Homo sapiens: one gene and its partners. The protein of the gene in region 4 purifies or fractionates together with the protein of the main gene of each other region. This does not show direct contact. Each region holds a gene or a part of one and is shown on either strand. Other genes may lie near its edges.

The links. The genes of interacting proteins can lie anywhere in the genome.
Region 1: the proteins of AIF1 (region 4) and WDR33 purify together in Homo sapiens (affinity purification with mass spectrometry; one large-scale study listed by BioGRID and IntAct). This does not show direct contact.
Region 2: the proteins of AIF1 (region 4) and USP36 purify together in Homo sapiens (affinity purification with mass spectrometry; one large-scale study listed by BioGRID and IntAct). This does not show direct contact.
Region 3: the proteins of AIF1 (region 4) and RRP36 purify together in Homo sapiens (affinity purification with mass spectrometry; one large-scale study listed by BioGRID and IntAct). This does not show direct contact.

Annotation. Positions count from the first base shown.
Region 1 is NC_000002.12:127,717,172-127,720,671, forward strand, and holds part of WDR33 (pre-mRNA 3' end processing protein WDR33), read right to left. Parts: intron 3,183-3,500; coding exon 2,094-3,182; intron 93-2,093; coding exon 1-92. UniProt on the Homo sapiens protein: Essential for both cleavage and polyadenylation of pre-mRNA 3' ends.
Region 2 is NC_000017.11:78,806,315-78,809,814, forward strand, and holds part of USP36 (ubiquitin carboxyl-terminal hydrolase 36), read right to left. Parts: intron 1,323-3,500; coding exon 645-1,322; intron 7-644; coding exon of another isoform or gene 1-6. UniProt on the Homo sapiens protein: Deubiquitinase essential for the regulation of nucleolar structure and function. Required for cell and organism viability.
Region 3 is NC_000006.12:43,027,361-43,030,099, reverse strand, and holds the end of RRP36 (ribosomal RNA processing protein 36 homolog), read right to left. Parts: coding exon 2,623-2,739; intron 1,009-2,622; coding exon 872-1,008; 3' UTR 501-871; downstream 1-500. UniProt on the Homo sapiens protein: Involved in the early processing steps of the pre-rRNA in the maturation pathway leading to the 18S rRNA.
Region 4 is NC_000006.12:31,613,927-31,617,515, reverse strand, and holds AIF1 (allograft inflammatory factor 1), read right to left. Parts: upstream 2,283-3,589; 5' UTR 2,187-2,282; coding exon 2,162-2,186; intron 1,996-2,161; coding exon 1,934-1,995; intron 1,847-1,933; coding exon 1,780-1,846; intron 1,526-1,779; exon of another isoform or gene 1,413-1,525; coding exon 1,371-1,412; coding exon of another isoform or gene 1,173-1,370; coding exon 1,010-1,172; coding exon of another isoform or gene 1,006-1,009; intron 701-1,005; coding exon 616-700; 3' UTR 501-615; downstream 1-500. UniProt on the Homo sapiens protein: Actin-binding protein that enhances membrane ruffling and RAC activation. Enhances the actin-bundling activity of LCP1. Binds calcium. Plays a role in RAC signaling and in phagocytosis. May play a role in macrophage activation and function.

The DNA.
Region 1 (3,500 bases), on a different chromosome or scaffold from region 4:
CCTTGTCCGGGGTTCAGAGGGGGAATGCGACCTTGTGCTCCCTGCTGCCCTAGGCCTGGTATCAGGGGTGGGGGGCCTGTGCTCTGTCCTTCCTGAAAATATGTTTTTAAAGTAAGGGTATGAAATCACAGGCTTGAGCTACATAAATAGTGATTGCATTATAACATGACAAGATAAAAATACCCAGTAAATATTTACCTAGTAAGATTACAGTAACATTGTCCTTAAATCAGGAGAAAGGAGATACTTCTTTTACTATAATAATTTTTTTAAAGCACCTGTATTTTAAACCTGTTGACAACTTTTATGTAAAATTAGATCTTTACTCGTAATGCCAAAAAAGAACATCAATGGAAAGTCAGAAATTCTAACACAGCAGCACTAAATTAAACCAATTAAAACAACTGGTTTAAGTAACTGGTCTGGTTAAAGTGAAGCAACTTAGATTTCAGCATATGAGAAATAAGAGCACAGATTTTCATCAGGCAACTTCTGAGATCTGAAATGCCCTACAAAGTATCAGATCTTCAGACTCATTCTACCAGTATTTCTATAGGTCAATTAAAATTTCAGAATCATGCTTCCCATGTATAAAATCTTTTACTACATGGTACAATAAAAAATCTCATTGAATTATCCCAGAAACTCAGGCATGTCCTTGTGACTCTGACATGTTTATAAATATTTCAGTTATAACACAGTAGCTAAAGTCCATTATTTTTTTAATCCTCCAAAATGAAAACTGTTAATTTACTACCAGAAAGTTAGGAAAATAACTTACAATAAATAATATTATACACACATACAACTGAGCAGTAAATTAATAAAATATATAATACTTCAAGTTTTAGGGCAATTTAGAATGGCAATCCTATACTTAATTCATCCTAACTTCTGAGAAGTGCTGAATAAAAATCTGGAAATAACTCAGACATCATCAGATTCTCCATGACTACGACACTTTTAGGTTCTGGAAGACCTACTTTAGAATAGTAGATAATTTATTTGTTTTAGCTTAGTAGTTGAGTTCAGGAAACCCAATGGTCATCTTTACATTAGGGATTCGTGGTGGTATTTGAAAAACCAAAACAGACTGTGCTTTCTACATCTGTAGCATCCCCTTTCTCCAAGTGTCTCAGGGAGTCAACATTAGCTGACTCGCTCACTTTTGGTCCACACTGGACCAAAAGTGAGTTTTCAGGGACAAAACTCAGTTATTCATACCCAAATAATGCCTCCAGACTAAGAACTTGAGAAAAGCATAAAATGCACATAGCTGAGCAGTATTACATCTATTTATGCTCATGCAATTCTTTTCGTAATTCACTCCCCCAAGCAACCTGAACTTTCCTCACACCATCTCTCAAGCACGAGCTCAGCGCATGAGCAATAAAAATTGGCTAACAAAAACAGAATCCTCAAAGAAGGAGAATTTCTACAGAAATGCTCCCCCCTGCAAATACTTTTATATGTGAGCTGAAAACAACTTGAGCAGAGTTTCATCCAAAGGGTCACCATTTCCAGAATGCTCAATTCTGGAATAACAGTCTCTTTATTTCTATTCACTGTAATAAACAGAGTGAGGTACAGAGTCTATAGTATACTCATGAGTTAAATATCCCATCCTATCTTTTAAAAGTAGAGTTGGCAGACAGGAAGTGATTCTGTGGCTGGCAGGCCCATGGAACACCAGGCTGCAATGTAAAGGGCCCAGAAAGGAGGCATGACAGCCTCAGAGCCGACCACCATGTAAAACATGCTTCCTCCTCAGGGCCACAGCTCTCCTGGAGCCCTGGGACAATTATCAGCTGTACTCAAATGAGAGTTGACCTTTTCTGAAGAAACTCTATTACCAAAAAAAGAAAAATGGTGAGAAGTAAAAATGAATACTGAGATGTACTTAATGGGAGTATAACCTAACTCATCATTCTTATGATTTCATTCTTCAGCCAGGATGCTAGTATCTTAAGCTACTGTCACTACTTGATAAGTATTTATATCCAGCTGTGACCATTTTCCACAATACTCAGCAGTATTACTTCTGTGCAGAGTGTATTTTCCCAATGTGCCCGTGAGTTGGAAATGAATAATACCTGGTTGAAGGGGGCCCGGGGCCCATCACCTAGCAGAGGCGTTTTCTGTTGCTGGAATGGTATTGGCCCTTGAGATGGATGTGGCCCTCTTGCTGGGTTCTGCTGTCCCTGAGGTCCGGGGGGTCCTTGCATGCCACCCTGGGGTGGAGGTCCTAAAGAGCCCTGGGGCGGCCCCTGCTGACTTTGTGAGCCTGGAGGCCCTCGCAATTCCTGGGGAGGTCCCAGCATTGATCCTTGGGGTGGAGGCCCCTGCATGCCTCGGATCTCCTGAGGACCTCTCATTTCCTGAGGGCCGTGTCCCAGTAGTCCACCTGGAGGGTGAGGTCCTCTCATCTCTTGAGGCGGGTGGCCCATAATCATCCCTTGGGGAGCAGGACCCTGGTTCTCCCGGGGGCCTGGAGGCCCCTGCATTCCTCTTGGATTCAATCCCATCAGAGGTCCCTGAGACACAGGACCTTGGATCCCTTGAGACCCTGGTCCGCCTTGGATCCCATGAGGATGAGGAGGCCCTTGCATTCCTCTGGGACCAGGTGGTCCCTGCATACCTTGAGTACCCGGAGGCCCCTGTGGGCCCAAGTGACCCTGAGGGCCAGGCGGGCCTTGGGGGCCTATGTGACCCTGTGGGCCAGGTGGACCCTGAGGACCCATATGACCTTGAGGACCAGAACTACCTTGTGGTCCAGGTGGCCCTTGAGGTCCCAAAGGGCCATGAGGTCCAGGATGCCTCTGCATTCCTTGGGGCCCATGCATGTCCTGAGGCCGTGGCAACCCCTGGGGCGGGCCCTGGGGCCCCTGTGGTCCCATGAATCCTTGTGGCCCCCCACCTCCCTGATGCAGTGGAGGACCTTGTGGTCCCATTTGTCCCTGGGGTCCAGGAGGCCTAAACTGTCCCTGTGGACCTGGAGGCCCCATTTGAGCCATGTTCATTGGCATCTGCTGAGATGGATGGGGCTGTTGAAAACCTTGAGGAATCTGAGACATTGGACCTTGTCCTGGAAAAGGCTGGGGTCCGAGGAGAGGGGTGCCAGATGAGGGAGGAGGCTGAATTTGCTCAACTTGTTTCTGTGCAAGTCTTTCAATTTTAAGTTGCTGGAAAGAAAGAAAGAAAAAAGCATGTTGAATAAACAGGCCAGAGCCCTTGAAGATGACAATATTGCTATCATGTATTCTGTTAGGGGACTCTCAAACATAAAAACTGCTCAAACTCTTCACGCTCCAGTGGTAATTAGAGTCCATGCAACACTCAAGCACTGTAAGGAGTTTTAGGTTCTTTCTCATTCTTTTTAAGTCCTGGGACACAGTAGTAAGGATTTTTTTTTCCTTATTTTTTTTTTCTGTCCCCCAAGCTGGAATGCAGTGGTACGATCGTGGTTCACTACAGCCTCACCCTCCTGGGCTCAAGTGATC
Region 2 (3,500 bases), on a different chromosome or scaffold from region 4:
GGTGGTCTAAAAAAGGTTTCCGTGAGTGAAGAGGGAAAACAAAAGTAACAAAAAATGAAAATAAAAACAAAAGAGCCCAGAAAAAAAGATGAGGAGACAGAAGAAGACAAAAAGGGGAGGTGAGGGGCAGGGGAATGGTAGAAGAAGAACCAGAAAAGTATTTTTGGTTAGAAACAAAAAAAAGGAAGAAAATTTAAACAAAAATCTCAGCACAACAATCACATCCACGTGCCGTGGCTGCCCAAGCTTCCTGCTGCAGAGGTGCCGGGCACCCCACTGGGGCTCTGCGCTTCCTGCCCGCCCCACCCCTGCTAGGGACACGTGCTGGTGGGGCCCACCCTCCCTCGGGTTCAGTCAGGATCTTCCACCTACTGTGAAAACAGGGAACTGCTACCTTGCCCAAACCTCCATGAGTCACATGAGCATCACCAGATCAGGGCTCTCTCAACACCCCATACTGCCTTCACCCCAAGATAGCCGTTCTTTAATTGCAAATGGCTGGGAACGACTAAAAGACACTTTGTTCCTCTAACATGAGGGAGGCCAAAGCCCCCGGACAATGTTCTCACTCCCTTCAAACCACAACCAAGCAACTCTTGGAGCTCTCCTGATACACAGCAGCGGCGAGACCCCCACACACCCACCTTCTTGGCAGAAAGGGCCAGTTTTTTGGCTGGTGGAGGAGACATGGTGCTTGCAGGCTCAGTGGTGGTGTTGCTCAGGACAGGGGACTTCAGCTTCACCGTCTTAGAATCTGCTCCACTTGGCGGCGTTTTGGAGTGGCCAGCGGTGGAACAGTTCGTTTCCTGAGAATCGCAGAGATGGGCCGCTCCACTCCTGGGGGTCTGGGGGGCCTTGGTGGAGTCGCTGCTGGCCGAGTGCTCTGGGCTGGAGCTGCTGGAGCCCCTCCTGTCGAGGCCAGCGCTCTCGTCGTTCCCCTTCAGCCCATGCCCGTTGGCAGTGGCTGTAGCCAGGAGCTTAGGTGAGGTAGAGAGGACAACATCCCTGCTGTCCCAGGAGCCCTGCCTTTGGCTCCCAGATCTGCTGCTATTCGAGTTGCTGGTCCCAGGCAGCCCCTGAGCAGTTCTGGGGGAAAAGTGCTGTGGAGGAGCTGGCTTCTTCACCTTCTTTCCAGGGTCGTCTAGGATGGTTGGCATGTGTGTGGGTGTCTGGGAGAGTTTGGGGGAAGGGGACCCCGAGGGCAGCTTTGGAGGAATGCAGCCGTTCTGGGACTTCAGGCCCAGGGTGGAGCCATTCCTGGATATGGGCACACCAATCTCTTCAGTGGTGTGCGGCTTCTTCATCGTCCCAGAGTCTTGTCGCTAAGGAGACCAAAGCAGAAAACACAACTGAGGAAGCGAGAAGTCTCAGCTGGGCCACATCTTCTTAAGGCCACAGTGAATCTTAGTAGCAGGCATGGCCTCTGATTAGCATGCTCAAGATAAATTATTTATCTGGACTCTTGGTAAAGACACTGTGGCTTCTCTGAACAATTCTGGTGTTCTGTGACATCCCAAGAACAGGGACCACAGCCGTGTACCACCACACCTGGCTAATTTCTGTATTTTTGACAGAGATGGGGTTTCACCATGTTGGCCAGGCTGGTCTCAAACTTCTGGCCTCGAGCAGTCCACCTGCCTCAGCCTCCAGAAGTGTTGGGATTACAGGTGTGAGCCATAGCACCTGGCCTGAATACATATCTTTATGGCCACCTTTACTATAAAACCAGTACATTTTCATCAAGATTTGGGAAGAGAAAAAAGTATAAAGGAAGAAATTTAGCAAAGTTCCATCACCTAAACATAACCATGCATTAACATTCTAGTGCTTTCTTTTTTCAATCTTTTCTTCCAAATGGTTCTGGCCTGAAGAGTTGCATCCCAGTTTTATCTTAAAGCTATTATCTCAAGCATTTTTATGGGCGATAACTCTCAATAAATATCTTTAAGACAGAGCCTTGCTCTGTTGCCCAGGCTGGAGTGCAGTGGCATGATGATGTCATCATAACTCACTGCAGCCTCAACCTTCTGGGCTCAAGAGATCCTCCCACTTCAGCTGCCCAACTGGCTAGGACTATAGGAGTAGACCACCACACCCGAATAATTATTACTATTTTGTAGAGATGGGGATCTTGCTATGTTGCCCCGGCTAGCCTTGAATTCCTGAGCTCAAGCAATCCTCCCACCCTGGCCTCTCAAAGTGCTGGGATTACAGGCCTGAGCAACTGCACCCTGCCTGTCGGCCTGTCTTTGACATTTTACTATATATACTATGTACTACTGATACACATTAACTGTATGGTTAATTTATATAAGCTATATTGTCTCCAACTGTTGAAATTAAAAATACTGTACAGTATATGTGTGTGTATCCTTTACCCTTCAGAGCACTTATTACAACTGCATAGAAATAACTTATTATTCTGTATTTAGATGCTGAATGTCAGCCTTCCCCTGCTTGACCAAGAGGCTGTACCCGTTATCTCTCTCGTTCCCACTGCAGCCCTCACCAGCAACTCAAGGGTCTGGTATAGAGTCGGTGCTTAAAAAATATTTGTTGAGCTTTTCCTGTACTTAGTACTCCATGCTAATTTTCTGGAAATGGAATTACAAGGCTAATTTTCTGGAAATGAAATTACAGATTTCATTTTCATGAAATCTGATGCAAAATGCCAAACTGCTTTTACTATACTCCAGCCACATCTATTTTTCAAAACATTTGCTAATTTGACACTCGTTTGGGCTATTACCACTTTAACATTCATATTCTCTGCACATGCACTAAAGTGATCTTCATTTGAATGAGATCTTTTGTTTACAAATGTTAACCTTTTGTTGACAATATTTTACAAGGTTTTATTGCTTCATTTGTTTGTAGTAAATTATGTACAAAAATGTAAATCTTAGTCAATTCATAATTCTTCTACATTTTATCCTTCAACTTTAAGCATACAAAGTCTTCTTCCCTTCCCAGAGGTTAAGAATTTACCTCTATTTTCTTCCAAGTTTTGTTTTGTTCCCTACATTCTATTCTTTGTTAATACTGTTTTCTAAAAGGAATTCATCTTTCCACTGCACCGCAAAGCCGTTTCACTGGCTGAACATTTCCATACACACTAGAACTTGCACCATGTCATTTAGAGTAAAACGGCTCGTCTGCTTGCAGTGTATTTGGAAAATCACGTTTGTAATGAAAATGCTCATGGTCAGTGAAGCGCCCCTGCAGGTGTGCCTGACACAGGGACTCTCCTTGAGCCAATCTCCACCCTCGGGCATCACTCTGCCCATGGAGTTCCTGTGGCAAGTGGGGCTTCCTTTGTTTTTCTGGGGTTTTTTGAGACAGGGTCTCATTCTGTTGTCCAGGCTGGAGCGCAGTGGCACAATGATAGCTCAATGCAGCCTTGTGTTTAAGTGATCCTCCTGCCTCAACCTCCAAACAGCTGGGACAACAGACGTGCACCACCACACCTGGCTAATTTTTGCACTTTTTTTGGAGATGGG
Region 3 (2,739 bases), about 11 Mb from region 4:
ATTGGTTCACCCACTAAATGATCTTGTCATCCTTGAGGGGCCCAGATTTAAGTGGGAGGGGTTTCTGATCTGACTTCCCAGTTGTAGATGCCTTAGGCTTTATTGCCTATCCCAATATGTGGCCCACTAAAAAGTAGTTCTAGGCTACCCACAAATCCCACATAAAAGCAGAGGCCTTAAGGCCGGAACGGTGGCTCAACGCCTGTAATCCCAGCACTTTGGGAGTCTGAGGCAGGCAGATCACTTGAGGCCAAGAGTTTAAGATCAAACTAGCCAACATGGCAAAACTCTATCTCTACTAAAAATACGAAAGAAATTAGCTGGGCTTGGTGGCGGATGTCAGCTACTCGGGAGGCTGAGGCACAAGAATCACTTGAACCTGGGAGGTGGAGGTTGCAGTGAGGCGAGATTGCACCACTGTACTCTAGCCTGGGTGACAGAGCGAGACTCTGTTTCGGGGGGGAAACACAAAAAGAAGGCCACAAAAAACAGAATAAAAAGATGAGTAAAGAGAATGTTTATGAAGTGGCTCCTACATAATGTCCCAGCCCTGGGAGTCACGAACAGACTCCATGGTTTTCATTGGCCCCTCTTCTTCGGTATCAGAATCCCTGGTTTAAGGCAAGGATGAGAGAAGAACACGAGGACGCAATGAACCAGATTCAAGCTGAGGCTGTGTGGCATGGCAGAAGGCTGAACTATTCTTGTGTAGCCCTAGGGATAGTCCAAGAGCCCTCTAGTCTTCTCTGAGGCAATGAGATTCAAGGGCAGCTGTGATCCTTGCCCTTGAACGGAAACCAGCCGTGGCCAAATCTGTCCTCACAGATCCATGTCTCCCTGGGGCAGTGGCAGAGCAGAGGATAGTTCCTTATTACTCTTTGCTCAAAGGGAGATGTCTCCTGTCCTTGCCTGCATTTCGTCGCCTCTTTCGACTCAAGAAGTTCTCCAATTTCTTGCTGCGTTTCAGCTCCTTGAACTTCTCAGCTAGTGCCAACTGGCGCTGCTCAGCTAAATGACAGGGAGAATGAAAGTTGGTGAACAAAGAAGGAAGCCCCTATTCTTTCCCAAACCAGGTCAGTAACTCCAAGCCATTATGCTGGATACATGAGTTCTTTAAAGCTCACTGGTGCCCCTCTATCTTTTTTCTGAGACGGAGTCCTGCTCTGTTACCCAGGCTGGAGTGCAGTGACGCGATCTCGGCTCACTGCAACCTCCGTCTTCTAGATTCAAGTGATTCTCCTGCCTCAGCCTCCGGAGTAGCTGGGATTACAGGCGCGCACCACCACATATGGCTAATTTTTTTGTATTTTTAGTAGAAACAGGGTTACGCCATGTTGGCCAGGCTGGTCTCGAACTCCTGACCTCAGGTGATCCGCTCTCCTCAGCCTCCCAAAGTGCTGGGATTACAGGCGTGAGCCACTGCGCCTGGCCAACGGGTGACTTTTTTTTTTTGAGATGGAGTCTCACTCTGTCACCCAGGCTGAAGTGCTGTGGCACGATTTCAGCTCACTGCAACCTCCGCCTCCCAGATTCAAGCGATTCTCCTGCCTCAGCCTTCTGAGTAGCTGGGATTACAGATGCACAGCACCACACCCAGCTAATTTTTGTATTTTTAGTAGAGACGGGGTTTCACCATGTTTGCCAGGCTGGTCTTGAACTCCTGACCTCGTGATCTGCCCTCCTTGGCCTCCCAAAGTGCTGGGATTACAGGTGTGAGGCACTGCGCCCGGCCCAACTGGTGACTTTTTTTTGTTTGTTTGTTTTTCCTGTGAGATGGAGTCTCACGCTGTTGCCCAGGCTGGAGTACAACAGTGCAATCTAGGCTTTCTGCAACCTCCACCTCCCGGGCTCAAGTGATCCTCCTGCCTCAGCCTCCTGAGTAGCTGGATTACAGGTGCACGCCACCAGGCCCGGCTAATTTTTTTATATCTTTAGTAGAGACAGGGTTTCACCATGTTGGCCCCCAGGCTGGTCTCGAACTCCTGACCTCGTGACCCCCCCACACTGGCCTCCCATAGTGCTGGGATTATAGGCGTGAGCCACCGTGCCCAGCCCAACTGATGACTTTTTATATGATCTCAGTACTACTCAATTCAACCAACTATGAACACCTATGTGCCTGGCCCAGCGTGTGTGCATGTGTGTGTGTGCAGTGTAGACCAAGAAACAAAACTGATTGTGTGTGTGTGTGTGTAGACCAAGAGATAAAACTCTGTGTGTGTGTGTAGTATAGACCAAGAGATAAAACTGATTGTGTGTGTGTGTGTGTGTAGACCAAGAGATAAAACTGACTCTGTGTTTGTGTGTGTGTGTGTGTGTGTGTGTGTGTGTGTGTGTAGTGTAGACCAAGAGATAAAACTCACTGTGTGTGTGTTGGGGGGGGGGGGTTGGGAAGTGGGGAGTGTAGACCAAGAAATAAAGGTGACAATGCCTGCCATGATCTAATTAGGGATACAAGACTGGTTACAAACAACTCCCTACTATTTCTACTTTCCTCCAAGTTACCATGGGATCCAGCCTTCATGCCTTCCTTAAAGGGGATCAGGGACACCCCAACACAAGACTCTACCACCATGGCCCCTGCACCCCTGTCCCTGTTAGCAACAGTTGTGCCCAACTCACATTTTTTCAGGAAGTATGGCCGATGGCCCTGCTGGGCCTGAGCCCGACGTTCTTGCTTCAGGGCCAGGTGCAGCTCCTGCTGTTGCTTTCGTTCCTGCTGTGCCATTTCTTGCTGCT
Region 4 (3,589 bases):
CTCCTGACCTCAGGTGATCTGCCCACCCCATCCTCCCAAAGTGCTGGGATTACAGGCATAAGCCATCGGCCCCGGCTCATTCAAGTTTTAAACATTATTGAGGGCTTATGATATGTCAGGCACAATAGCATAGGTCACTTTATCCCCATTTTTAGAAAAAAGCCTCACAGAGGCTGAGTGATTTGTCAAAGTGACAAAGCTTATAGTGGTGGAGAATGTTGGTTCATGGTATTCCTTGCTCTTCATGAAATCTGTCATGGGCCTGAGTACCTTGTTTGGACATGTGTTTTTGACCTGCCTGCATTCTTTGAGGTTAAGGCTGTCTTACACAGCTGGAATCCCCCTTGGTGCGTGAAACCATCTGCTGTAGTGGACACACTATAGCGTTGTTGATGGATTGTTCATATGGCCAAATCCTTGCCACCTTTCCCTCAAGACCTGTCTCTCCTTCCCAAACCCAGGAAAAAAATCACCCAAATAAAAACTAAGCTGACTTGATCTGGAGGAGGGGGTAATTTATTTAATTTGTTGACTCTGGCTTACAATTTTGTCTTCTGTTTCCATATCTGGGTCATTAGAAGCCCCTTCAATCCCATCATCCCTTTTCCCTTCAAATCAGGGCAACTCAGAGATAGCTTTCTTGGCTGGGGGGCCTGTTGGCTTTTCCTTTTCTCTCGCTTTTTCCTCATACATCAGGATCCTGGTTGAGATGGGAAGAGGCACAGGGATCAGGGAACACTCCTCTCAAGGGAATAAATCATAGGGTGCTAGGAAAGGCTAGAAGGGGATGGGGATGTGAGGGTGGAAGGGGGAAGAGGAAGGGCAGGGGTTGGAGTTTCTGGGGACCAGGACTATGGATAGGGATGGGGTCGGGACCTTGGAAGGGTCCCTCTAAGGATGGAAGAAGGGATGATGGGCAACGTGTAGAAATGTTGAGCCTGTGGACAAGGGTAGGGATGGGGGAGGAGAAAACAGGTAAGTACAGGGGAGGTTGGAAATTGACACTCACATTTTTAGGATGGCAGATCTCTTGCCCAGCATCATCCTGAGAAAGTCAGGGTAGCTGAACGTCTCCCCGGAGCCACTGGACACCTCTCCAATTAATTTCTTTAGCTCTAGGTGAGTCTTGGGGACTCCAAGTTTCTCCAGCATTCGTTTCAGGGACATGATATCTGGGGGCAGAGGATGGGGATGGGGAGAAGGTGGGGAGACCCTCTCTCTCCTCTCCCACTTCCGCATCCCCATTCTCCTTCCTCCCACTGTGGTAGGTGGGCCCCCTCCCAAATCATGAGGAATGGAGCATGTAGGAGAGACCTCTGTCTTCTTAGGCCTGCACACCACCCTGCCCCCGCAAATCACCCGTTTCTCACCAATATCGCCATTTCCATTAAGGTCAAACTCCATGTATTTCTCTGGGTGAGGGGAGAGAGCAGAAGGGATAAGCGCTGACTGGAGGGTTTTCAGCAGGGGACTGAGGAAGGGGTTGCCAACCAACTGCTAGGTGGAGGAGACAACGTGGAAGGAGGAGGAGGGGCAGGCAGAGGAAGTGGGGTTGGGGAGTTGAGGGGCCCCGCTAGGGTGTAAGGAGCTAGAGGGGATGCTGAGAGAGGCAGGCCCGGGAAAGGGACCGCAGTGTGGCAGGAGGGCAATAAAGGCAGGTTCCCCTTTTGCTACCACAAAAGTAAACTTTTTATCTCTGCTGTTCCTGCCTTGTTCTTGTGGAAATCCTAACCCTCCTACCCCCAGCCCTGTCTCCACCGCCTACAGTTTCCCCCTCACCTTTGAAGCCTTCCAGTTTGGAGGGCAGATCCTCATCACTGCTATATTTGGGATCGTCTAGGAATTGCTATGGAGGGGAAAATAAGAGCCAGGGTAGGCCCTCCCCATCCACGCCCCATCCCCCTGGCTCTGCCCCCTTAGTTCTTCCTTCTACCTTGTTGATCTCATCCAGCCTCTCTTCCTGCTGGGCCTTCAGCAGTCCGAAAGCTTTTCCTCCTGTGGGGTGAAAAAAATTAATCAGCCCTCATCCCTCCCTTCCTCTCCTTACCCTGACACCAGCCCGGGCTACCCTAGGCCAGCTGACTGCCCTCCTAGCCCACAGCCCAGGTCTGTCCATCTCATTCCTCCGATCTAATGCCGCTGCCTATCCCACCCTCCCTACCCTGTAAATCCCTGGTTTGGCTCATAGCTCAGCAGATGCTGGTAGAGGTGGGGAGACAGACCAAGCTGGAGGCCTCTGTCTGCAGGCTCTCCTTCTCTCCCACCAGTCTTCTCAGAAGCCTTCCTCCCAAACTTCCCCTTTCCCCTCATTCCTTCCTCCTCTGCCTCCCAGACCTCACTTCCCCATCAGGTTCTGCTGACACTAGCACCCCAGGAAGGAGGGGGAGCCTGGTGTGAAATGCAGATTAGAAAATAACATTCTCCCAAATTCCTCTTAAATGAGAGCCCAGTGTGCGCATGAAACAAATATTTTGATAAGCCACTGGAGGTGTGCAGGAAGGGCAGGAAGACACCAGGGATATTTATTCTCAGGAACTAGTATTTTTGAACAGGTCCAAGGTTCAGGTAATGATAAGACCTTGCATTTTGTCAGGTTTCATGAGTCTGGGCAGGCAGCTGTGGATAGGAAGACAAGGAAGGGCTGGCTGAATTTTTCTGCTCTGTAGATCGGAGAAGAATCTGAAGTCTGCTGGCAGCTCCAGGAGGGTGACAAGATGGGCACAGGGTTTAGAAAGGGAGAGAAACCTCACTCCCAGCCTGGCAGCTCCAAGGAGGCCCTTAAAAATATGGAAATGTCTAACAAAACATTTTAATTTGTTTGCTTTAGAATGTGCAACGTAACCCTCTCATCTTATCTCCTTTGAAATCTTTAGTAAAATCTATAGAGATCAGGAATTTAAGAGTTTAAGTAGATTCTTTGGAGGAACTGAAAGTGGTACTTAAAGAAACAGCGTTTGTGGACAGAAGAGCCAGGGAGTGAGGCTGACATCAGGTTTGCACACTGCACGTGCGTGCACACATGCAGGCATGTTTGTGTGATGGTGGTGCTGGTCACTGTGGGTTCAACAGAGTGGATGATAGCCTCTGACACATGCCTCCCTAGGCATAACCTTTATCCCCTCTGTCACTCTGTTTGGCCAGTCGCTTCTTGGAGAGGTGAGGACAGCACATTTCCCTCATTGAGATTTCCTGGTCCAAACTCCCTGCCCAGGGCTCCATCTACCCTGCCCCGGCATTGATGAAGACACCTTTCCTTCTCCCTTCCCCCCAACATATTTCCTTTTCTGTAGCTGGGAGTTTTCACTTCTCACTGCCCTCTCCCTGACCCAAGCCAGGTAGGGGAGATGCTGGAGTGGCCTCTGGCTGCTGCTGCTGCTTTTTTTTTTTTTTTTGAGTCGGAGTCTTGCTCTGTCGCCCAGGCGGGAGTGCAATGGTGCAATCTCGGCTCACTGCAACCACTGCCTCCTGGGTTCAAGCAATTCTCCTACCTCAGCCTCCTGAGTAGCTGGGACTACAGGCGCCCACCACCACGCCCAGCTAATTTTTGTATTTTTAGTACAGATGGGGTTTCGCCATGTTGGCCAGGATG